Homo sapiens: one gene and its partners. The protein of the gene in region 4 purifies or fractionates together with the protein of the main gene of each other region. This does not show direct contact. Each region holds a gene or a part of one and is shown on either strand. Other genes may lie near its edges. The genes, in order: ALDH9A1, TRABD2B, TXNRD2, IVD, STARD7, ACAA2 and ALDH1L1.

Evidence for each region.
Region 1: the proteins of IVD (region 4) and ALDH9A1 fractionate together in Homo sapiens (co-fractionation; one large-scale study listed by BioGRID). This does not show direct contact.
Region 2: the proteins of IVD (region 4) and TRABD2B fractionate together in Homo sapiens (co-fractionation; one large-scale study listed by BioGRID). This does not show direct contact.
Region 3: the proteins of IVD (region 4) and TXNRD2 fractionate together in Homo sapiens (co-fractionation; one large-scale study listed by BioGRID). This does not show direct contact.
Region 5: the proteins of IVD (region 4) and STARD7 purify together in Homo sapiens (co-immunoprecipitation; one large-scale study listed by IntAct). This does not show direct contact.
Region 6: the proteins of IVD (region 4) and ACAA2 fractionate together in Homo sapiens (co-fractionation; one large-scale study listed by BioGRID). This does not show direct contact.
Region 7: the proteins of IVD (region 4) and ALDH1L1 purify together in Homo sapiens (co-immunoprecipitation; one large-scale study listed by IntAct). This does not show direct contact.

The regions. Positions count from the first base shown.
Region 1 is NC_000001.11:165,692,063-165,695,562, forward strand, and holds part of ALDH9A1 (4-trimethylaminobutyraldehyde dehydrogenase isoform 1 precursor), read right to left. Parts: intron 3,336-3,500; coding exon 3,190-3,335; intron 1-3,189. UniProt on the Homo sapiens protein: Converts gamma-trimethylaminobutyraldehyde into gamma-butyrobetaine with high efficiency (in vitro). Can catalyze the irreversible oxidation of a broad range of aldehydes to the corresponding acids in an NAD-dependent reaction, but with low efficiency.
Region 2 is NC_000001.11:47,773,886-47,777,385, reverse strand, and holds part of TRABD2B (metalloprotease TIKI2 precursor), read left to right. Parts: exon of another isoform or gene 1-463; intron 464-1,946; coding exon 1,947-2,216; intron 2,217-2,376; coding exon of another isoform or gene 2,377-2,431; exon of another isoform or gene 2,432-3,500.
Region 3 is NC_000022.11:19,910,819-19,914,318, reverse strand, and holds part of TXNRD2 (thioredoxin reductase 2, mitochondrial isoform 5 precursor), read left to right. Parts: intron 1-2,871; coding exon 2,872-2,942; intron 2,943-3,500. UniProt on the Homo sapiens protein: Involved in the control of reactive oxygen species levels and the regulation of mitochondrial redox homeostasis. Maintains thioredoxin in a reduced state. May play a role in redox-regulated cell signaling.
Region 4 is NC_000015.10:40,415,795-40,418,801, forward strand, and holds part of IVD (isovaleryl-CoA dehydrogenase, mitochondrial isoform 1 precursor), read left to right. Parts: intron 1-283; coding exon 284-388; intron 389-495; coding exon 496-568; intron 569-2,335; coding exon 2,336-2,469; 3' UTR 2,470-3,007.
Region 5 is NC_000002.12:96,191,828-96,195,327, forward strand, and holds part of STARD7 (stAR-related lipid transfer protein 7, mitochondrial isoform 1 precursor), read right to left. Parts: intron 3,181-3,500; coding exon 3,131-3,180; intron 1,526-3,130; coding exon 1,415-1,525; intron 1,334-1,414; coding exon 1,251-1,333; intron 642-1,250; coding exon 542-641; intron 1-541. UniProt on the Homo sapiens protein: May play a protective role in mucosal tissues by preventing exaggerated allergic responses.
Region 6 is NC_000018.10:49,782,534-49,786,033, forward strand, and holds part of ACAA2 (3-ketoacyl-CoA thiolase, mitochondrial), read right to left. Parts: intron 2,819-3,500; coding exon 2,664-2,818; intron 1,399-2,663; coding exon 1,314-1,398; 3' UTR 1-1,313. UniProt on the Homo sapiens protein: In the production of energy from fats, this is one of the enzymes that catalyzes the last step of the mitochondrial beta-oxidation pathway, an aerobic process breaking down fatty acids into acetyl-CoA.
Region 7 is NC_000003.12:126,153,087-126,156,586, forward strand, and holds part of ALDH1L1 (cytosolic 10-formyltetrahydrofolate dehydrogenase), read right to left. Parts: intron 2,418-3,500; coding exon 2,316-2,417; intron 1,558-2,315; coding exon 1,468-1,557; intron 496-1,467; coding exon 358-495; intron 1-357. UniProt on the Homo sapiens protein: Cytosolic 10-formyltetrahydrofolate dehydrogenase that catalyzes the NADP(+)-dependent conversion of 10-formyltetrahydrofolate to tetrahydrofolate and carbon dioxide.

The DNA of each region.
Region 1 (3,500 bases), on a different chromosome or scaffold from region 4:
ATATCTCAAAATAATAAGAGCTATTTATGACAAACCCACAGCCAATATCATACTGAATGGGCAAAAACTGGAAGCATTCCCTTTGAAAACTGGCACAAGACATGAATGCCCTCTCTCACCACTCCTATTCAACATAGTGTTGGAAGTTCTGGCCAAGGCAATCAGGCAGGAGAAAAAAATAAAGTGTATTCAATTAGGAGGAAGTCAAATTGTCCCTGTTTGCAGATGACATGATTGTATATTTAGAAAACCCCATTGTCTCAGCCCAAAATCTCCTTAAGGTGATAAGCTACTTCAGCAAAGTCTCAAGATACAAAATCAATGTGCAAAAATCACAAGCATTCCTATACACCAATAACAGACAAACACAGAGCCAAATCATGAGTGAACTCCCATTCACAATTGCTTCAAAGAGAATAAAATACCCAGGAATCCAACTTACAAGGGATGTGAAGGACCTCTTCAAGGAGAACTACAAACCACTGCTCAATGAAATAAAAGAGGACACAAACAAATGAAAGAACATTCCATGCTCATGGATAGGAAGAATCAATATCGCAAAAATGGCCATACTGCCCAAGGTAATTTATAGATTTAATGCCATCCCCATCAAGCTACCAATGACTTTCTTCACAGAATTGGAAAAAACTATTTTAAAGTTCATATGGAACCAAAAAAGAGCCTGCATTGCCAAGACAATCCTAAGCCAAAAGAACACAGCTGGAGGCATCATGCTACCTGACTTCAAACTATACTACAAGGCTACAGTAACCAAAACAGCATGGTACTGGTACCAAAACAGAGATATAGAACAATGGAACAGAACGGAGCCCTCAGAAATAATACCACACATCTACAACCATCTGATCTTTGACAAACCTGAGAAAAACAAGAAATGAGGAAAGGATTCCCTATTTAATAAATGGTGCTGGGAAAACTGGCTAGCCATATGTAGAAAGCTGAAACTGGATCCCTTCCTTACACCTTATACAAAAATTAATTCAAGATGGATTAAAGACTTAAATGTTAGACCTAAAACCATAAAAACCCTAGAAGAAAACCTAGGCAATACCATTCAGGACACAGGCATGGGCAAGGACTTCATGACTAAAACACCAAAAGCAATGGCAACAAAAGCCAAAATAGACAAATGGGATCTAAGTAAACTAAAGAGCTTCTGCACAGCAAAAGAAACTACCATCAGAGTGAACAGGCAACCTACAGAATGGGAGAAAATTTTTGTAATCTACCCATCTGACAGAGGGTTAATATCCAGAATCTACAATGAACTTAAACAAATTTACAAGAAAAAACAAACAACCCCATCAACAAGTGGGCAAAGGATATGAACAGACACTTCTCAAAAAAAGACATTTATGCAGCCAAAAGACACATGAAAAAATGCTCATCATCACTGGCCATCAGAGAAATGCAAATCAAACCCACAATGAGATACCATCTCACACCAGTTAGAATGGCAATCATTAAAAAGTCAGGAAACAACAGGTGCTGGAGATGATGTGGAGAAATAGGAACACTTTTACACTGTTGGTGGGACTGTAAACTAGTTCAACCATTGTGGAAGACAGTGTGGCGATTCCTCAAATATCTAGAACTAGAAATACCATTTGACCCAGCCATCCCATTACTGGGTATATACTCAAAGGATTATAAATCATGCTACTATAAAGACACATGCACACGTATGTTTATTGCAGCACTATTCACAAGAGCAAAGACTTGGAACCAACCCAAATGCCCATCAATGATAGACTGGATTAAGAAAATGTGGCACATATATACCATGGAATACTATGCAGCCATTAAAAAGGATGAGTTCATGTCCTTTGCAGGGACATGGATGAAGCTGGAAACCATCATTCTGAGCAAACTATCACAAGGACAGAAAACCAAACACTGCATGTTCTCATTCATAGGTGGGAATTGAACAATGAGATCACTTGGACACAGGGTGGGGAACATCACACACCGGGGCCGTAGGGGGTGGGGGGCTGGGGGAGGGATAGCATTAGGAGAAATACCTAATGTAAATGGTGAGTTGATGGGTGCAGCAAACCAACATGGCACTTGTATACCTATGTATCAAACCTGCACATTGTGTACATGTACCCTAGAACTTAAGTATAAAAAAAAAAAAAAAAGGAGGCAGGATTATCACTTGTTCCTCGCAGCTCTGGACTCCCAGGAAGAGGCAGCCTGGTCAGATTCTGGGAAACAAAAGAAACCTTTTGTTTCCGTCAAGTTTCAAACAGAGGACCTTCCGTGTGTTAGGCCAGCGTGGTAACTACTACACCACAGAAACCCTTTGCATTGCAGGCTTTTTATGTTTTGCGATGAGTATTAAATACTTGTTTTTACAATTTTTTTTAGTTGACAAATAAAAATTGTATATATTTATGATGTAAAAAAAAAGTTTAACTCTCTTTTTTTTAAAGGGAACATCTACAAATCTATGAAATCTTCCCAATTAAAGTAACGATACTTAAAACCCTATCTGAAAACAAATCTGAAAAAGAAAGGTAGACTTGAGAATCATCAAAATAAAGAATAAAAAGGAAACAAGTAAACCACATGGTTTAAAAAGAAAGAAAGGCTGGGCACAGTGGCTCACGCCTGTAATCCCAGCATTTTGTGAGGCCGATGTGGGTGGATCACTTGAGGTCAGGAGTTCAAGACCAGCCTGGCCAACATGGTGAAATCCATCTCTACGAAAAATACAAAAATTAGCCAGGCATGGTGGCACACACCTGTAGTCCCAGCTACTTGGGAAGCTGAGGCAGGAGAATTGCTTGAGCCCGGGAGGCGAAGGTTGCAGTGAGCCGAGATCACTCCACTGCACTCCAGCCTGGGCGACAGAGCAAGATTCCGTCTCAAAAAAAAAAAAAAATAAAAATAAAAAAAGGACGATGAGCTATAAAGAGTGCATTATAATTCAAAACAAAGCTTTACAAACATGAAAACCTGCCAAAGGAGATGTCCAAGAGCCAACATCCAGATGGGAAGTATTGAACAAAAACTTGTTTTATATACTAAGGTGAGCATGTGGAAATGTTTTTCCATTTTATAAAAACGTTACGGCCTAATGTTGCAACAAAGTCGAACTGCAAACATCACAAAGAAACCTCAGAGCAATGTCTGAGTTCTGGAAGGAAATAAATTGGAACATACCCTTATTATCCTGGCAGCCTCCAAAAGGATTCGGCAACGCTCCATGCCAGATTTTTGACTCCATATTTTAAAAGCAGCCTTTGCATTTTGAACAGCCAAATTTACTTCCTTTTCTCCTGAACATGTGAAAGTAGCTATCACTCGGCCTATAAAGAGCGGAAACATCAGTTTTAACTCAAATTGTTGCCACATATTTAAATAAAATATTATCTATCAATATTCTCTTAGTAGTAGTCTTTTTTTTTTTTTTTTTTTTTTTCTTGAGATGGAGTCTTGCTCTGTCACCCAGGCTGGAGTGCAGTGGCGCGATC
Region 2 (3,500 bases), on a different chromosome or scaffold from region 4:
ATCTGAGTCAAACTGACAAGGCTGCTCTTCCTACCTGAACCGTTTGGGCCCAGCACGCATTAGTTTATACTGGGGGCCAGGGGCAAGCATGTGTTTGAGGGTTGGGGATTCCAAGGTAGCCTCAGGGACAAAGCCTTCTTCAAGTTTCCCTCCTCTCCCCTCACCCCAGCCCTCACCCCAGCAGCCCCAAGGACCTTCCCCTTGAAGCTCATTGTGTCTGTTCTGGCCAGGGCAGGGGAGGCAGGCAGGCCAGTGAGGCTAGCGAGCCTCCTATTCATCTCAGAGCCCAGGCATTAGGGGAGGGGGCCCTCCACAGCTCCCCCATGGGCTCTGCTCCAAGGACTCTCAGCCTTAGCCTCCTGCACGGGGGAGCAAGGGAGTTGGCAGGGCGGAGGGGGGCGGGAATGCTGAGGAGGCTCCAACAATAAAAGCCATCATCGGCCACAGGTGCTTCCTGGATCTAGCTTTTTGTCTGACTGTTTTGAATTATCTCCCCAGCAGCTGCGGCATCTCCAGGCAGCCTGAATCCTGAGAATCTGGGGTTGCCATGGGGGTAGGGGAGGAGAGGCTGAGCTGATGGCCTTCTTTCCTTCAAAGAGAGAAGCTCCTCACCCATCGTGCCGTGTGAGAGTGGGCTGGGAAGACGGCCTGCCTGCTGTCTTGGGTACTGTCTAACCTTGCAAGCTGCCCACTCAGCCACAATTCCTGAAACCATTCCCAACCTTCTCCCAGGATCACATGTCCCTAAAACAAATTCTATTGTGGCCATGGAGAGGAAAGAATAAAAGGGAGAAAAACAGAGGGTGCCCTTGGGCTAAGCGGTGCACGTGTATGCCCCTGTATAAAACATGAATTCCACAATGTGACAAATGACACTTTAGCGCCTGCCTGACAGCCAGGTCTATTTGCTTGTCGGCCAACATCCAAGAGAGGCTTATGTGCCAGGCACTGTGTTAAGACCTCATCTCATTCATCCTCATGACAACCCCATGAAGTAGGTAGTATTATTATTCTTGTGCTATAGCTCATTGCTGCTTGATATGATTAAGTAACTTGCCCTTCATCACACGGCTTGCAAGTTGTGGAGCCGGGCTGTGGACCCACATCAGTCTACCTCCAGCTCTGACTACTTAACACTGTCTTTGCTCCACTGAAAAGGTGCACAGGAAATGTGTATTGAATGTATGAATGGAAGGTTGGATGAATGCACAATGCTAATAATCTTAATTACTTAAATGTTTTGGCTGCTTACTATTTGCCAGACACTGTTCTCGGTGCTTTGCCGGTGTTCACCTTCATAATCCTGATGAAGTACCCTGTGAGATAGAGTCTGCAACACCCCCATTTCACAGCGTAGGAGACTGAGGCACAGTGAGGTTAAACTCACCTAAAGTCTCAGCCAGAGTTGTTGAATAAATGAGACCCTGACCAAGCTCAGATACGCCCCAGAGACGTACCCAGGGCTCGCTCCCTCACGTCTTCCTAGCCTGGGCTCAAATGTCACCTGCTGGTGACCAGACCACCTTCCCTGAGTAGCACCCTTCACCCCCACTCTCACACCTGTCTCTGTTTCATTTGCTCCTCGGCAGTTAGCAGCGTCTGGCATCCTCTGTTTTACTCTCTGTCTGCTGCTTTGGAATGTAAGCTCTCAGAGATCAGAGGCATTGTCTGTTTCCATCATGCTGATACCTACCTCCTAAAAAAGTGCCTGGGACAGGGTTGGTGCTCAGTAAATATCCGTCGACTAAACAAATGAAGGCATGACTCAAAGCACTGGCTTTCAGCACCAGACGAGGTTTTCCTGGGCTGCTGTCACCGGGCCCAGCAGGGGCACCCTGGCACTTTCTCCTGCCATGACAAACTCCCACTGAATTGGACTGTATTCCCACCACACATGGATGACATTCTCCAACACATGTGCCCCATGTGCCATTACCTCTTTCCAGCCCTGCCCCCCAGAGCCCAGCGCCCTCTCCTGAGGGGACCTCGACGAGCCCGGCCCCAGTGACCCCAGCTGCCGCTGTCCCCGAAGCACCCTCTGTGACCCCCACCGCCCCACCAGAGGATGAGGATCCAGCCCTGTCCCCACACCTCCTGCTCCCCGACAGCCTCAGCCAGCTGGAGGAGTTTGGCCGGCAGAGGAAGTGGCACAAGAGGCAGAGCACACACCAGCGGCCGCGGCAGTTCAATGACCTCTGGGTCCGCATCGAGGACAGGTGAGCCAGGGAGGGCAGGTCTGCCCAGGAGCTGGGCGTCTGCACCCGGGATAGTATACCCTGAACCCCCCACAGCTGGGCACACTGTCGTCAGGCCAGCCCTGCTCTAAGGAAGTGTGGCAGGTGGCTTTCTACAGCACGTTCCCATCTGATTTTTCAGTTTTATTCTCAAAACAAAAGCAATTCAACAACAAGTACAATTCTCTGCACCTTAAAGGTGAGGAAATAGAAGCTTTCTTCAGGCACAGCGCACAAATCTGCTTTGCACTCAGCTTTCCTGGGACACACCTGTACAAACAGGGCGCCATTTGTCCCATGGACTGGAGGTGAAACTAGGAGAAAATGGAACAAGCTGGCTAAGCCAAAAGGCATGAGCTCCCTGTGCCTAGAAGCTGTGAGTAGCCGACACCCTGGCAGGGAGGCTGCAAAGGGAACCGTGCTCTAAGAGAGAGATGGGATAGATGGTGATCAATGCCCTTGAAGCTGTGGGCTCTGTCTTAGGAGTGGATGGGGGATTTGTGATATATCTTGTTGAAAATGGACAGATAGGAGAAATCATCCTAATGCACGGAGACCCTTCTGTCCTCTTCCTATATGCCCCTCCTGCCACCTCTACCACCCACCTCAGCTTGTCTGTCACCAAAGTCCTGCTGTGACCAGGATGCTGTCTTCCAACCTCTGCCTGCAATCTCAGTACACAGGAGTTTCCCCAGATTCCACTTTTTGGCAGGAGTCTCCATATTTAGTGAACAGTGTTGCTAGAGCACAAGGAATGTCCCAGGGAGGGACTGTCAGTGATGGGGTAGAATCCTACCCACTGCACTGGCCCAGCTCTGAATATGCCATGCTTAGCAGTCATAGAGTCTCCATCTCAGAGTCTCTATCAGGGGGAGCCTTAGACTCTCCATCTGGACCCTAGAGATCGCCATCCAGGATTTTCCCCCGAAACCCTAGAGAGAATCACCTTGGCTATTCGTTAAATAAACAGATTCTCAGGCCCCACCGCAGACCTCATGTATCAGAATGTGTAGGACAAGGGCCTGGGACTCTGTATGTTGCGTGTACACCTGGAGATTCTTCTGAGCAGCTGTGGGAAGCCCTGACTACACTGTGCATTATAGATGGTGAACCAAGGCCTGAGTCGGAGAGGGTTTGACCAGGGTCCCCACAAGGAATCAAGGGCTGCCTCTTGCACTTTGCACTTCATGAATCTCCTACAGCCAGGTCTCAGAGCCAATGCCAAAATGTTGCCATGGTCCAGCCCATTATCATAAACTGTGGGGT
Region 3 (3,500 bases), on a different chromosome or scaffold from region 4:
AATAGTGCCGCTGTGAACATCTGCAAAGAAGTTTTTTGGTGGACTTCAGTTTTCACTTCTCTTGGGTTACACTTAGGAGCAGAACTGCTGGGTCATGTGGTAACTTTATGTTGAATCTTTCAAGGAACGTTTCAAGGAACCTCAGACTGTTTTCCACAATGACTGTGTTTTACATTCCTTCCAGTGGGGTGTAAGGGTCATGGTTTCTTGTTTCTTCACGTATCTTGTAATTTTTTTATTGAAAGCTGAACATTTCAAATAATTTAATGCGATAACTTTGGAAACCAGATTCTCCCTCTGCCCCAGGATTCTGTTGTTACAGCTGCTTATTTGGTGACTTTTCGGAACTGACTTTGTAGACTCTTATTCTTTGATGTATGTGGCCACTGAAGTCTTTACTTGGTTAGCTTAGTGGTCAGCTAAGAACTGCATGGAGATTTCCCTAAACTAAGAACTCTCCCGGTCTTTGCTGAGGGCTCTGTGTGCGTTTGGAGGGGATGCCTTCCACACTCAACAGGCAGCAGACAGCTCTGCCCTAGCCTTCACTTCCTGCTTCTGCAGAGATCAAGGTCAGCTGGAGGTGAGGGTTCAGGGCCTCGTTGGTCCTTCCTGATGTGTGCACAGTGCTGTGCATGCGCCTGGCCTAGGTTCCCAGGAATATGCTGGAACCTTTCAAAGCTCCAGCAGACATCTCATACTTTGGCTTTTCCTTTGAAGCTTTTTGGGCAGTCTGTTGTTGGCTCTAACTGTTACCTATCCCCTCAGGCAGCTGTGAGAAGAAAACCTCAGACAAATGCCCCCAGAGAAAGGCTTTTAGCCCTGGCTGAGCTCCGGTGAAGTTGGATGAAGATGACCCTATAGTTGCTGACTCTGACTCTTCTTTGTGGGGGGGCTTTGAAAGACCCCAGCTGAGTTCTGCTCTCTCTGACACATCACTGTTCAGGGCTGCCGCTGAGGTGGGAGTGGGACCAGAGTGAGTTAAAACACCCTGGAGTTCCCATTCTCACTCAGCTTCAGCTGTTTTTCCTGACTTTAAATGTTCCCTGTGTTGCTGCAAGCCTGTGGTTAATTTCCATAATTCTGAATCTCCCAGTTCTTGCCAGTTTTATCGCTGTTTTTAACAGAGAGGTGAATAACTCCTGGCCCAGTCTTGTGGGTTGTGGGGGCAGAGTTGAGGAAGGGGCCCCGGGGTGAGGGGTTGGGGGGCAGCTGCAGCAGGGAAAGCAAATGGGCTGGGGGTGAGCAGAGAGGTTTGGCTGAGACCAGTCCCCACGGGTCTCCCAGGGAACCGTGTGCCGCCTGCTCCAAGCCTCTAAGTAGGCTGCAGCCAAGCTCTTGAAGACCACGGCTCTCTCGGCCTGGAGGCCACACCACCTCTGACTTAGACCCAGGGGCAGTCCGGTGGAGGCAGAGCAAGGGGAGGTTCTGCCACTTCTTGGATGTGACCCCAGCCTCCACTTCGTCCTGTGCTTACTGTGGAAACAGGGAAAGGAGCGGCCCCGAGGAGCACAAGCACCCCCAGTCCTTAGAGGCCGTGGGACTTGTCTGGCCGCCAGGCAGCCACAGCAGCCTCTAGAGGGGGCAGGTTGCTTATGCACAGAGGTGGGGCTCAGGGCTGCGTGACTTTGTAGGATGACACTGTGCAGTTGTTCAAGGCAGCTGCTGCAGACAGGGTCCCAGTGATCCCCTCTCCTGGCAGCTGGGCTCATGGTGGTTCTGCTTAAAGAAGGCCACAGCCAGCTTCCAGCAGCCCAGCGGTCATTGGGTTTCTCTGAGGCCCCAGGCAGAGCTGCACGTGCATCCGCACCAGGGAGCACTGCACAGGGGCCCTGGCCTGGCCCGGCCCTGCTCTGCACCTCACGGGCAGCTGCTGACGGCTCTTTGGGCTCACAGGGGATCCAGCAGGCGCTCCTGGTCCTTAGGAGGCAGGCAGCTCAGGGCTGCTTCGCTCTCCCTGCCACGCCCTCCCAGGGTGTCTGCCAAGGCTTGCTTGCGTTTTAGTCCCTTTGATTGCCAGACCTTTCGGTTTTCCTTGAGTAAACCTGAGAAATTCCTGACTTTATTTTTTTTTGCCAGTTGGAAGCATAAACTGTTTGAGATCCGCTTCCTCCACCAGCACATCTTGTTCTCATGGCCGCTAAGGGGACGTTCACCCTGGGCCTCCCACCTGCTTGGCCGCCCCTCTTCAGGTGACCTGTATGATTTCTGGGCTCAGAGCCCACCCGGGCCAGCCCTCGAGAGTGTGAAGTCCGTCCTGGCTTCAGCCAGGTGCCCTCAGAGCTGCCCCTCAGTCCCTGCCCACCTCAGCCTGTGGCACTTACCCCCTGTGCCTCCTCTCCTCTGGCTGGCCTTGTAGGCCACCCCTGCCGCGCAGACACACCTGAGCTCTGCTGGCCCTGATTTGCTGACCTGTTCTCTCCCCACTTCCTCTCTCTGAGTTTGGATCCCCCAGAACCCAGGTGTTGCTCCCTGGGGCTGCATGCCCCTGTCTGTTTGATGTGTCTGTCCAGAACCCGGGCAGACTTGAGGGGTCCCAGCTGTCTGCCTGTATGGCCCCTGCAGTTGCTGTACCCACCTCAGGCCCTGTATCCTGCTCTGAACCAGGGTCAAGGGGAGGGTCCTGGGGAACAGAGGGGAAAGGTACCCTGCGAGGGCACCGGGACCTGGAGTGCAGCAGCTTAGATGCAGACAGGCCACCTGCAGCCCCAAAGAGGCCACAGCCTGCAGACAAGGACTGGCAGCAGGGAAGCCCTGTGCATGTGTGCCCTGGGAAAGCTCTGCTTGATTCTGCAAAGCTGGCATCCTCTTTAAGGAAGCCCTAGGACAGGCCAAATGGAGCTCTTGTCCAAGGGGTCATTTCTGTCTTGACAGATCGAAGGTGCCTTGGAATATGGAATCACAAGTGATGACATCTTCTGGCTGAAGGAATCCCCTGGAAAAACGTAAGGCCTGCGCGTGCTTGGTGGGGTCCTCTTTTTGTTCACCAGAGTGAGCACTGGACCCTTAGAGCCTGTGCTGGTGCTGGGCTCCTGGGGCTTTCTTTCCGGTTTACCCAAAAGAAGGAAAAAAGGCCTGTTATTTGTGGCCAGGTGTGGTGGCTCATGCTTGTTAGCCTAGCACTTTGGGAGACTGAGCGGGAGGATTGCTTGAGGCCAGGAGTTCGAGATCAGCATCAGCCTGGGCAATATAGTGAGACCTCTACTCTACAAAAATCTGTTTTGGTTTTTTTTTTGGCTTTTTTTTTTAGGTGAATTCTCACTCTGTCCCCCAAACTGAATTGCAATGGCCCAATCTTGGCTCACTGCAATCCCTGCCTCCCAGGTTCAAGTGATTCTCCTGCTTCAGCCTCCAAAGTAGCTGAAATTACAGGCGCCCACCACCACATCTGGCTAATTTTTGTATTTTTAGTAGAAATGGGGTTTCACCATCTTGGTCAGGCTGGTCTTGAACTCCTGACCTCAGGTGATCCGCCCACCTCGTCCTCCTAAAGTGCTGGGATT
Region 4 (3,007 bases):
AAGCTGCTGGAAGGTAATAAGCATTGGAGTAAATGGTGCCTTGGGAGCCATGCCTTTCGGAGGCAGTGATGGCCACTTCGGGGTGTCATGCGGGCTGTGGAACAGCCACTCTGTGGCCCTAACTCCCACACCTGCCCCCATCTCCATCATCCTGAGTAAATCCCATCTCCTCTCCATGCCCCTGCTTCCTCATCCTTGGCTGTCTTGTTGCCATTGCTGACCTGCTTTTGGTAACTGAGAGAGTGTTCCAGCATGTTGACCTGTGACATCCCTTTGTGCCCAGTTGATGCAGGGGAAGATGGCTGACATGTACACCCGCCTCATGGCGTGTCGGCAGTATGTCTACAATGTCGCCAAGGCCTGCGATGAGGGCCATTGCACTGCTAAGGTGAGGGCCAGCCTCAGTCGGGGAGAGGCGGGGGCAGTGGACCAGCTGCTGAGACTTGCTGTCTGCGTGCCTCGCAGGGCCCTGCTGACCCCAGCTTCCTCCCGTAGGACTGTGCAGGTGTGATTCTTTACTCAGCTGAGTGTGCCACACAGGTAGCCCTGGACGGCATTCAGTGTTTTGGTGAGTGATCCCCACTTCCCAGTCCCGGGGCTCCCTCACTCCTGGGGCCTGTGGCTGCTTCAGAAAGCAGTTTCAGGGCGGGCGTGGTGGCTCACACCTATAATCCCAGCACTTTGGGAGGCCGAGGTAGGCAGATCACCTGAGGTCAGGAGTTCAAGACCAGCCTGGCCAACATGGTGAAACCGCATGCCGGGCATGATGGTGCATGCCTGTAATCCCAGCTACTTGGGAGGCTGAGGCAGGAGAATCGCTTGAACCCGGGAGGCAGAGGTTGCAGTGAACAAAGATTGCACCATTGCACTCCAGCCTAGGTGACAGAGCGAGAGGCTGTCTCAAAAAAAAGCAATTTCCTCTCCACTTCTCCACTCCTCACTATGTGCTTATGCTAGGCCCAGCTGAGCTGGGACCTTCGGGCTCTTTCTGTCCCAGTTACAAGGAGGAAATGGAAAGCAAATGAGAAAACTGCTAGATGCCAGGAGTTGCTGCTGCCTTCGGCAACACCCCCCTCTCATCCTCCCCGCCTCATAGATGCTAGGAAATGGGAAAGGGAGATGTGGCTGGGCACAGTGGCTCACACCTGTAATTCCAACACTTTAGGAGACTGAGGCCAGTGAATCACCTGAGATCAGGAGTTTGAGACCAGCCTGGCCAACATGGTGAAACCCTGTTTCTACTAAAAATACAAAAAAAAATTAGCCAAGTGTGGTGGCAGGAGCCTGTAATCCCAGCTATTTGGAAGGCTGAGGCTGGAGAATCTCTTGAACCCAGGAGGCGGAGGTTGCAGTGACCGGAGATCGCGCCATTGCACTCCAGCCTGAGTGACAAGAGTGAAACTCCGTCTCGGAAAAAAAAAAAAAAAAAAAGGCCGGGCACGGTGGCTCACACCTGTAATCCCAGCACTTTGGGAGGCCGAGGCAGGTGGATCACCTGAGGTCAGGAGTTCGAGACCAGCCTGACCAACGTGGTGAAACCCCATCTCTACTAAAAATACAAAAATTAGCTGGGTGCAGTGGTGCGCGCCTGTAATCCCAGCTACTCAGGAGGCTGAGGCAGGAGAATCACTTGAACCTTGGATGCGGAGGTTGCAGAGAGCCAATATCATGCCACTGCACTCCAGCCTAGGCCACAGAGCATGACTCCAAAAAAAAAAAAAAAAAAGCTAAATGGAAATTTCTAGAAATAGTTCATAAGTTTCAAATCCACACCATCCTGAATAGCTTGAAGTGTTGTGCCATGCTGCTCTGTCATGTTTGGTACGTGAATCGTCCCTTTGTGCAGCCTATCTATGCTATGTGGGCTACCTGCCCGTTAGTAGTCACCTAGGGTATCCAATCAGCTGTCCTGATATCAGAGTGCCTGTGTTCAAGTAACTCTTATTTTGCTCAGTGGCCCCAGATTGCAAGAGTAGTGATGCTGGCATGTCATAATAGTTCTATTTTAGTATTTGTTATTATTGTTGATCTGTTACTATGCCTAGCTCATAAATTAAACTTTCTCATAAGTATGTATGTATAGGGAAAAAAACAACATATATATGGGGTTCGGTACTATCTACGGTTTCAGGCATCCACTGGGGTCTTGGAATGTATCCTCCAAGGATAAGGAAGGACTAGTGTATTCCCCACACCCCTCCCTCTTGCTACCTTTTGCTGCTTTTCTTTAATCACCCTCTCCTCCTGTGGCCTGTTTCTATATACTTGGCATTCTGTTTGCTTTCTTTGTTTTGTCAATCACTTCCTTTCTTCTCTGCCCAAACCCTGGTTGCAGGTGGCAATGGCTACATCAATGACTTTCCCATGGGCCGCTTTCTTCGAGATGCCAAGCTGTATGAGATAGGGGCTGGGACCAGCGAGGTGAGGCGGCTGGTCATCGGCAGAGCCTTCAATGCAGACTTTCACTAGTCCTGAGACCCTTCGCCCCCTTTTCCTGCACCTAGTGGCCTTTCTTGGGAAGTAGAGATGTGGCGGCTTTCCCACCCTGCCCACAGCAGGCCCTCCTGCCCAGCTGCTCTTGTCAGCCCTCTGGCCTCTGGATGAGGTTGAGTTCTCCACAACAGCTCCCAAGCATCATGGGCCTCGCAGCCGGGCCTGTGCCACGGCTAGTGTTGTGTGATTTAAAATGGACTCAGCAGGAAGCATATTGTCTGGGGATTGTTGGGACAGGTTTTGGTGACTCTGTGCCCTTGCTCTCTAACTTCTGAGCCCACCTCCCAGGGTAGGCACCTGGGGGCATGCAGGTGCCCACCTCCCAGGGTAGGCACCTGGGGGCATGCAGGTACCCACCTCTTTCTCTTGGGTGAGGCTCTGGCAAGGAGATCTCTCTGCTCAAGCACAGCAGAATCATGGCCCCTCTCCATGAATTGGAACTTGGTACAGGTTAAGTATCCCTAATCCTGAAATCTGAAACACTTGTGGTTCCAAGCATTTTGGATAAGGCAAA
Region 5 (3,500 bases), on a different chromosome or scaffold from region 4:
CAGCCACTAGCATCAATATCTATACTCTCAGTGGAGATTTAGCTTAAAAAGATAAAAAATAAACACAAAACACCTCATTAGGCTGAAATAAATATTCTTTTCAAAGAAAGGTCACAGAATTTTAAAGAAGGCAGACAGCATGAGTCCAATCTTCCCATTACTCTGGCAAGGAAGCAGAAATCCAGAAAAGTTTCCATCCAGTGCTCTGCCCACTGTAGTAAAATGTTGACAGGAGGTACTCGCTCTAGTTCCTGAAGAATGCTACTGATACAGGCTAATGCGTCAGTGGCTATGATTCTTTTAACTATCTCTCAGATAAGAGGGAACCAATGGATTGCCACTACTTTGTCCTTGGGGAACTTCCAGGTACATCACCTACGTCAGGAGTTCCCAAAAAATGGTTCCCAGACCAGTAGCATCAGACTCCCCCGAGCGAGAACTGTTCCTGCGCCACACCCCCTCCTCCCTAGTTCAGGTAAGACATCCCTTGAGAAAATTCCACAGCCATGACATGTTATCTCTTGGATGAGGTAAAACTCACCTCATCAAATGACTTGTGGGGACGGATAACCATTTGGGATTCATATGATCTGACCCTGACGAATTCTGGAGACTCTGGCACACTCGGATGCTCCACAGCACTGGTAAGGAGGAAAGGAGAAGCAAACTCTTAGTAATGTCTATATATAAAACAACAGGAGAGCTAAGTTAAGGGGAAGGCCTAAAAAGCTGGCTCTGATATTTTTAAATACACAAAACAAAGGAGTCACTAAGATGAATAAATACAAACTAAGTTCTAAAAATGAAGCGAAGGCCAGACGTGGTGGCTCATGCCTGTAATCCCAACACTGGGAAGCCAAGGAAGGAAGATCACTTGAGGCCAGGAGTCCAAGACCAGCCTGGACCACACTGTGAAACCCTGCGTCTACAACAAACAAATGAATTAATTAAAAATGAAGTGAGTTCCTTTGGTAATTTACGGCTCACTAGGCTGTGGGTCAAAAACAACAGCACTTCTTTTGATTACCAACATTAAAGAACCCAAAAAAACAGTTTAACTAAAAGCTTGTATCTCTCCATTCTTTCTAGACAGTCAGAGTCCCTCATCTTCTAGCTGGATGGAAGGGGCACTGGCTGCAGGGAAGCCTGTGGGAGACTCATAGGACACTAAGAATATACAAACTCAGGTACGTAGGAATGAAGGCCACAGCTAAAGGAACTCGGCAACAGCCACAGGCAGCCATACATACCGCGACACCAACACCATCATGTTGTTTTCCTGATCCACACTATACCGCCGAACATAAACATAATCCCGTGAGTACATTGGATACTAAAGAAATGGAGGAGCAGGATTAGTGTTCTGCATCACACAAACCTGGACAGAAATAAAATCAGAAGTAAAAATACTCACAGGAAAATGGGTTACCCAGTGAAGAACCTCGGAACCACTAACCACATCCCTCTCAATCACCTCCAGCTTGATTACCAGGGCATCCCATTTTTTTCTATACTCTGTGTCCAGCTGCAGAAAGAGAAAAGACCATGAATACCCAAGAAGACCCAAAACAAAAATGCAGAAAGCTTTCCAGATGCTTTGGTCTCTGATCCAAGAATCTTATTACAAGGAGAGAGTAATCTGACCTAACAGACAGTGCCAGAGTGTGAGAGACATGGCTGTGTTTACTACAGATGTTTCTTTCAAAATCACCTTATACAGGCTAATGTCATTACACTGAATGTGAATCTTCATTAGACAAACCAAGGAAAAGTGTAACAAAATATTTTAATAGACACATCTGGGGAAAATAATATATAGTGATATGAATGTGTAAGGGTAAGACAATTCTAAAAAGTTTTAAACAACAAAAAGTCCAAAAGTATTAAGTAGACACTTCACACACAAAAATGCAAGCAGCATATTTTTTTAAATTTCTGGCATCACTAGTAACTGAAGATTTTCAACTTAAGACAGATATACCATATACATAAAACCAACAAAAATTCACTACAAATTAACAAGATCCAGTACCTCAGGGAAAGTGCACTTGCACGTTAGAGTGAGTGTTATAACCAACGAAGTAGTTATCGGAAGTCAGCAAAACAAATGAAAAATCCAGAAAGAAAAAAATTTTGTTCTAGAACTCTGGGCGATCCCACCTCCCTGTTTCATTTTTTAAACCATCTTCCCCTACAAGGAGGAAAGCAGTCTTTGAACAGATACTCTTCATCTTTATGAAATAAACATTGGGCCAACACAGTGACTCACACCTGTAATCCCGGCACTTTGGGAGGCAAAGGCAGGAGGATCACTAGAGCCCAGGGAGTTCAAGACCAGCCTAGGAGACATAGGGAGACCCTGTCTCTAAGAAAAAAAAATTTTAATTAGCCAAGTGTGGTGGCGCATGCCTGTAGGCCTGGAAGCTGAGGTGGGAGGATCACTTGAGTCCAGGAAACAAAGGCTGCAGCAAGACATGATCACACCACTGTACTCCAGCCTGGGTAACACAGCAGGACCCTGTCTCAGGGAGAGGAAAGAAAAAAAAAAACCCTCCACTATGGAAATGTTCTTGATTTGAGGTTAAACAGATGTGACAACTAAATATAATCCTATCTGTACTGAAGTGGAAAATGCTATAAAGGACATTGAGTCAACTGATAAAACTGATAAATACAAACAGAGGACTACATGAAAGTGTTCCATCAGTGTTAAATTTACTAATTTCAATAATGGTATCATGATTAGTTAAGAAATACGGCATATGGCTAGTTTTAGGAAATACACACTGGAAGAATTTAGGAGTAAAGGACTATGATGTATGTAACTTACTCTTAAGTTGTTTGGGGAAAAAAACAATAAAGCCTCATAAAATACATTAAAGTATTCATATCCATTCCTCTATCTGATATTCCCAACAGTCCTGTGGGAGGGTAAAACTGATCTCATCCCCATGGGACAGATAAAGAAATTCTAAGTCAAATGTTTACCTAAATGCTATGCAATGTGGATGACAGGTAGATAGATGGATGTACTTAAGCCAATGTCACCTGAGTCAGATAAATGATTCATGTAGACAGTAGCAATTGATATGCTAGGAGGCTCCAAATCTGGAGAGAAAAATTAACTCACCTGAACATTGAAGAACTGCCGAGGTGTCACATCTGTGTAGGTTCCAAAAACTAGAATGAAAAGAAAGAATAAGGGATGCTGGCCATACTCCAGTCACTCGCCTTGTTTCTTTCACCTAGCGGCGTTTCAGATCTAAAGTACTAAGAGATCTTAAAGGCAGGTTCAGAAACTAGAAGTCTTAGTAGAGCAACAAAGAAAGACAAAGAGGATGTAAGCAAAGACAACACTGAGACATTTGTCATCTGGGAGAAGAAAAACAATAAACAAAAAACTACGGCAAATTTTCTGAGAAACAACCAGAACAGTTTAGAGAAGTATGAAGAACAGAAATCCCATGCACCTGTGCAACTATGGAACCCAAAAGATAGCC
Region 6 (3,500 bases), on a different chromosome or scaffold from region 4:
CAAGATGCTATCTCAAAAAAAAAAAAAAAAGGCCGGGTGCAGTGGCTCACGCCTGTAATCCCAGCACTTCTTTGGGAGGCCGAGGCGGGTGGATCACGAGGTCAGGAGATCGAGACCATCCTGGCTAACACGGTGAAACCCCATCTCTACTAAAAATACAAAAAATTAGCCGGGCGTAGTGGCAGGCGCCTGTAGTCCCAGCTACTGGGGAGGCTGAGGCAGGAGAATGGCATGAACCCAGGAGGCGGAGCTTGCAGTAAGCTGAGATCGCGCCACTGCACTCCAGCCTGGAGGACAGAGCGAGACTCTGTCTCAAAAAAAAAAAAAAAAATTTCCCCCCAATAAATGTATAACCCATAAATTCAATTTAATCTTAATTAAAATTTCCAGTGGCTCTTTGATGAAGTTAACAAGAATAGGGCCTTGCCCTACTAGATATCCAGTCTTAGAACAGACAAATAAAGCAATGGAAGTGTTGTGGGGGCATTTTAAAGGGAGAAAATAAAGGATGAAAGATGGCCTTTAAGCTGGGAAGAAGGAAGTAAGGTTTATACACACAGCAGAATATTATTCAGCCTTTAAAAAGAAGGAAATTCTGACACATGCTACACCATAAGGTGGATGAATCTTGAGAACATTATATAAAGTAAAGTAAAATAAGCCAGTCACGAAAGGACAGATATTTATAATTTCACTTATGAGGTACCTCGAGTCATCAAATTTATAGAAACAAAATACACTGGTGGTTGTCAGGGGATGGGGGATGGGAGAATCAGGAGTTATTGTTTCCATGTGTGGTGACTGAAAAAGTTCTGTTGATAAAAAGTGGGGATGTTTGTATAAAAATGTGAATGTACTTAATACCAGTGAATTGTACGCTAAAAAAGGGTTAAGATGGTAAAGTTTATGTAATGTGTATCTTATCACAATTTAAAATTTTTAAAAATATAAATGACAGGAAAATATTAACTGAAGTTAAGGCAACATTTATTTGATTTCCTTATAATCATATTATCTAAGGCAGAAGTGGTGGTTACTTGGCAAGAATACGATTTCTTTTAATGTCTTCTATAGTTGAGTTTTAGCTCAGAAATACATCATATTTCACTGGTTCAAATCTGAGAGAATGTACTTCTAGCATGGGCTCCTATTCATGATCAATGCATTTTTGTGTCACCATGGCTTGATCAAACTTAATCACTGTTTCAATGGCAGGGCATGGCCAGTTGTGGCAGCTGCTCTGAAGGTCACTTGTTTTACTGTGGCCTGGCCAAGTAGAGTAAGGATGGGTCACAGTGAGCTCACTGGTCTCTTCAGGCTGTGCTCTGAATGATGACAGCAATACCTTGGCCACCTCCAATGCAAGCTGATCCAACGGCATATTTTCCACCTCGACGCCTGAAAAAGAAAGCAGTGACTGAAATCTACTCTAATAAAAAATCAGATTAATGAAATAGAACTAATAACATCACATCTGCATTACTCATCCTTATTCAGCTCATCTGCTCAATCTTTTCCCCAGTCCTCAATTTTGGTATAATTACAACAGGCAACAGACTTTGGAAAGCTGAAAGTTTTTAATCAAAAAAAACAAAAAACAAAGAACAAAAACAAACACCAGAAGAGGGAGGCAAACTAAAAAGGAGATGAGTGGATTTAGGGTTATAGAGTAGATTTAGGGTATATGAAACACATACAGAAGCTTGTGTGTGTTACGGGAAAGGAGTGAGAAGAGGAGGTAACTGGATAAATGGGAAGCTGGGGAAGGGGATGAACATTAAGCTCCTTTGATTTATATATTTGATTTATATAGTGTGAGAGCCTCATGGCACCTTAGAAGAAATGTAATTAATAAAGTTTGTCCCTATGAAAGGGCAGATAATTTAGAAACTATCCATGTCCCTTTCATAAAAATTAGACTCTTTTAAAGTACTCCTCACTCCTAATATGATGACTTCGAGAAAATTATCCAGGAATTACTTTTGTATGTGGCAATCACCTATTTCAACTCAGGGAATCATTAAGTGAAATAAGAGTCACATTTCCCCTGGCCTAACAGGGAGTCAGAGTAATTTTTCAGCCTGACTTACTTGGTTTTGTTTGCAATTTTTCTACAGAGCAAAATATTCCAAAAATAGAAGAGCTCCTCCTTCTGGTACTATCTATCAAAACTGAAAAGCACCAAACACCCAAAAGGTTCCTCCTGGAACCCTGCAAGCAGTGAAAAGAAAAACTTAGACCCAAATGTCAGTTTGCTTAGATTTCATAAATTATGGCATCTAGATCAGTACTCACTCAGTACTTTTTTTTTCTAAAATAGATTTATTTTACTCCTGTAACTGGCACTAAAATACAAGTGCCATGAGAAGCAGGGCCTCATTATCTGCTCATGCAGTGAACACAAGCTGAGTGGGGCACACAGTGCACAGAGACTGGACACACAGAGGAAGAGCTTGGTTCTTAAGTGCAAAGCCACTAACAAGGTGACTGACTCATCTATGAGACCAGATGAAAAGCACTGCCCAAGTAACTTGTTCCTGGTAACAGCCAGTGCAGGAGACATGAAGAAGAATGAAAAATGTTGGAGTGTTCTGGGGAAGCCTAAATCCATGCATTTCTATAAAAAACAGCAAATCTGAAATGCAGCTATTTCTAGCAAATACCTTAATTCGTGAACCAGGTGTGCAGTAATTCTTGATCCAGATCCTCCCAGTGGGTGACCCAAAGCAATGGCTCCTCCATTCACATTGGTTTTACTTATGTCAAGATCCAAACTCCTCTCAACAGCCAAGTACTGGGGAGCAAAAGCTTCATTCACCTTAAAACAAAAATTAGAGCACTAACAAAAATCCTTACTCACAAACTAATTTTTAAATGAGAATGGTCCAGTCCTATCAACAGCTAAGTCTGCTGTTTCTTCCTATTTAAATTACCTCGCAAAGTTATTTTATCTACAATCATTCTGCATAAAGCTATCAGGTTTAAAATGTGTATATTTACTAAATAATACTTTTAGTCAAATGCATCCCTTAGAGGCAATTCTCAGTAATCCCATAAATTGACACATACCAGACACAGTGGGATACTGTAGAAAGCCCACAGGTTTTAGAACTGGATGGATGGTTCAAATATTGGCTATACCATTTGTTAGGGTGTGACCTTATGCATATTCTTTAAACTCTTTAAATTCACGTTTCCGCGTGTGAAAATGTGACTGTGGTATCATGCTAAGAGTCACTGTCACAGTTAGATAAAATCATGAGTATTAAGTGTCCAGTGTGTTACCTGAAACATGGCAAGTACTCAATAAGTGGTTGCAAGTATTATTATTATTATGCAGTACTAGGAGCTATCCTTCCAAGAAGCTGACACACAACAAAGAATAAACCTTCAAAGCCACGTACATAAAGGGAACAGTTACTATGTTGAAATGTGGCAGAACTGAAAAGTATATTATGTTATACTTACACAAACTGGCAATTACCTTACTTCAAGTTTAC
Region 7 (3,500 bases), on a different chromosome or scaffold from region 4:
AGAGGTGTTTCTGATAGACCAAAGAGAGGCCCTGAACCCAGGCTCCCTGGGAGGGCTTCTCTCTGATTCTAGGTTGCCTGACACCCACACAGGGCACTCAGCCTGGAGATGGGTGCCTAGCCAGGAAGGGTAGGGAGCCCAGCTTTCCCAGAACAGAGAAGTGGGTAAACTGCCTCGGACACCCTGTGCTCAGGACCAGCCGGGTGGTCAGGGACAAATCAGGGTCAGTGTTCCTTCCTGGGTCTGGTTTTTTCCATTTTCTCCAGAGGAGCCTAGGGTCTTCCTGTGAGGCCTGAGTCCAAGGACAGGAGCATGGGTGGCTTTGAGCAGGCAAGTGACCCACAGCCGTGCCCTTACCATTTTGTCATCATTCCCAAAGAGGATGAGTCCTGCTTTGGTGACCACCCCTGGCCGATGGGCTCCTGGGATGGGCAAAGCGTCTCCCTCGGGCACCAGGCCTGAAGTGTTCAGCGTTGAGTTGAAAAATGTCAGTTTCTGTCAAGGGGAGAAATATCAGAAGATGGTGGGTGAGAAGAAGCCCCCGAAGCCAGTAGCCCAGGCAGGTCTGAGCAGGGCTGGGAGAGGGAGAGGGGCCAGGGGTAGCTGAGACCTGGGAGCCGGCTCAAAGCCCATGTGACCCCTGAGGCCCTTTCTCCTGGGGCACAAACAAGACCTGGAGGAGCCTCAGTGGCCTCAGGGAGCTGATGGCAGGTCTGCCTCAACTCTGCCATAAGACCCTTCTCCTTGGCCCATGGCCTCAGACCTGAGGTGCACAGACTGGGGGAGAATGTGCTCCAGGCATCACGGAATGAGGCTACCTGCCTTCAGGGTGCTGCCAAGGAGTGGTTGCTTTGATCAGAAGATGCATTTGCTAGTACAAAGGGCTCTGCGTTGATGAGGACAGCAGAGAGGCTTCTGGCCACAGTCTGGGCAGTCGGCTGGGGGTCAGGGGTCTGGAGAGTCTGAGACTGTGTGGGGGACAAGACTGCCCTCAAGGTTTGCACAAAGTCCACCACACACAGTCCCGCCACCCCTGATGCCTCACTAGAGCCTGTGACCCCCAAGTCTCCCCATCTTCAGCATCTGGCCTGCCCACGGTCAGCCTGGCCCTGAATGTGCTGCTCCACCCTGCCTGAGGCCAAGTCAGAGTGAGTACTGGGCCTGGGGTCTCCGCAAGCCCAGTGGTGAGACTCAAAATATTTCACCACCAATACAGCTGGGCCCCAGGGGCACTACAAGGGCCTGGAGGCCTCCAGCTACGCAGGACATCTATCCTTTAGCTACTGCAGGCTGGGTAGGTCTCTCACTCCTGGGGAAAGGCTGGGATGTTTAGGGGGCACCCAGTGGGAGTAGGGGCCAGGGCAGTAGCTATTTATTATACCAACCAGTTCAAACATGTGTGACAGTTTAATGGCCAGTGGGATACACCAATGCACGTGGCTGGATTCCAGCCATGCAGGGACACACCTGTTCACAGGCCTCTGTCCAGGCTCCCGGCACCTTGTCGTTCCCGCGGATCCAGTTGTGAATGGCCTCTGCCGGCTGGTCCCAGTTGATCTGTGGGGAGCAAGGTGTGTGTGCTCAGCTGGTCTCTCCTCACTCCCCTCCCACCCTGATGACATCTGGACAGTGGACCAAGCTCTTGTGAGACAGCTGGTAACCCCAGCTTCCTCTTAGACACTTGCAGGAGTCCCTGAGCTGGTGCCCCTAGTTCTGGGTGCTCTCTGACCCTCAGTCTCTCATGGGCTGAGCAGACTTCAGAATGGTTTGGGGAAGATAATGTTCTGTTGCTGTCAAGATGGCCCAGACCCTACACAGAGGCCCCAGCACAATGTACTCAGGCCCGTCCCATAGGGCCCAACCTTTCACTGGCAGGGCCCCTGTGGGTCCCCACACAGCAACCCATACTCCTGAGCTGAGACACAGCCTACAGGCTTCTGAGGCTCCTCCACTGGCTATTGCTCCAGAGACCCGCACTGTCCCTCACACCTTGCCTTGAAGACTGCTCGCACTACGGCTGACGTTTTGCCCCCTAACTCCCACTCTTATCTCCCTGTGGGCTTTGTCTGCCCATTCCTCCTAAAGAGGAACAGGAAAGAACCTGGAATGGACCCTGTTCGCTACCCTCCCAGGTGCCAGGGTCCTCCTCCTCCACGGCTCTCTTCATGCATCCCTGACCTGGGCTGCCCTGTGTTCTGGCCTCAAAGAATTACAACCTGCACCATCTGGGCTGAACCCCAGCCTCCTCAGGCTGCCCTCTACAACCCCAGTCTGCTCACAGGCAGGATGAGGGTGTGGAGGGACCCAGCACTCACCTTGGCTGTCTCCTTCTTCTGAATCCCCTCATAGGTGGCTCCTTCCTCAGGCTGAGGGAGTCTGGGGGCTTTGCCCTCAGCGATCAGCCTCACGGCCTGCACCTGGGGAGATCCAGTGGGTTGCTATCCCCAGCAATAGGACCCTGCCTCCTTCCCAGCCCCAGGGCCCACATTGAGCCTGGACCCTTCCCCAGACTGACCAGACTTGCCTGGTACACAGCAGTCACCCAAGAAACACCTGCCATATGAACAAGGGAGTCAGCGTGAACCTAACTTCTATTGCACAACGGACACAGACCCGTCCTCTCTACCTGGCAAAGGTTTAGATTACATAGATCTTACATCTTCTGATATCTTAGATGATTATATAAACTGTAAAGCCCTGCAGGTATAACACAGACACAAATGTCCATGTTGCTGTCTAAGCCTTCTCTGCCTTTAAAGAGAGTGGGTCCTGAGCCCCGTGGTGGGCTTGAAGGTGGAAGTTTGGAGGTCTGAGATGAAGCAGGAAGTTGTTTCTCTGTGACAGGAAAGAGGAAGGTGGTGGGAAAGGAATCAGAGAGGGAGAAGGAGAGCCAAGGAGTCTGGGCCCACGTGAGCAAGAGCCTGAGGGAAGAGACCGGGAGGTGCCAAGAATGGGAAGTGACCGGGTGTCAGAGCATCTGAGGCAGGGCTGCCCAATGGAGCCCTCTGTGGTGATGGATGAGTTCCAAGTCTGCACGGTCCAACACGGTGGCCAGGGGACTTAGAATGTGGCTGAGACTGAGGAACTGAATTTTTCAGTATAATTCATTTTAATTGATTTAATAGCTGCATGTTACCAGTGGCTGCCTTGTTGGACAGTGCAGCTTCAAGGAGTATTTGAGTTGCTTGCCGTGGGAAGCACAGGTAAGCTCCCTCTCTGTACCACTAAATCTCCAGCAACTCTACTTTGTTCACTATTTTTGTGAGCTGGTCAATCTGTGGGGAAGACAAGTTTAACACAACCGAAAAATAAAAGGCAGTGGCCAGGAGCTGAGGAGGACGAGGGGACAGTGGACACTGCAGCTGCTCTTCCTGCTGCGCCCAAACAGCAAGGGCTCCCCAGGGCCTCCTTCCCTCCTGCTGCATGCCTGGACAGCACCTCTGCCTGTGGCCGTCCCTGCCAGCCTGTCCTCGGGCAGGGGCAAGCAGCCCTCACATATG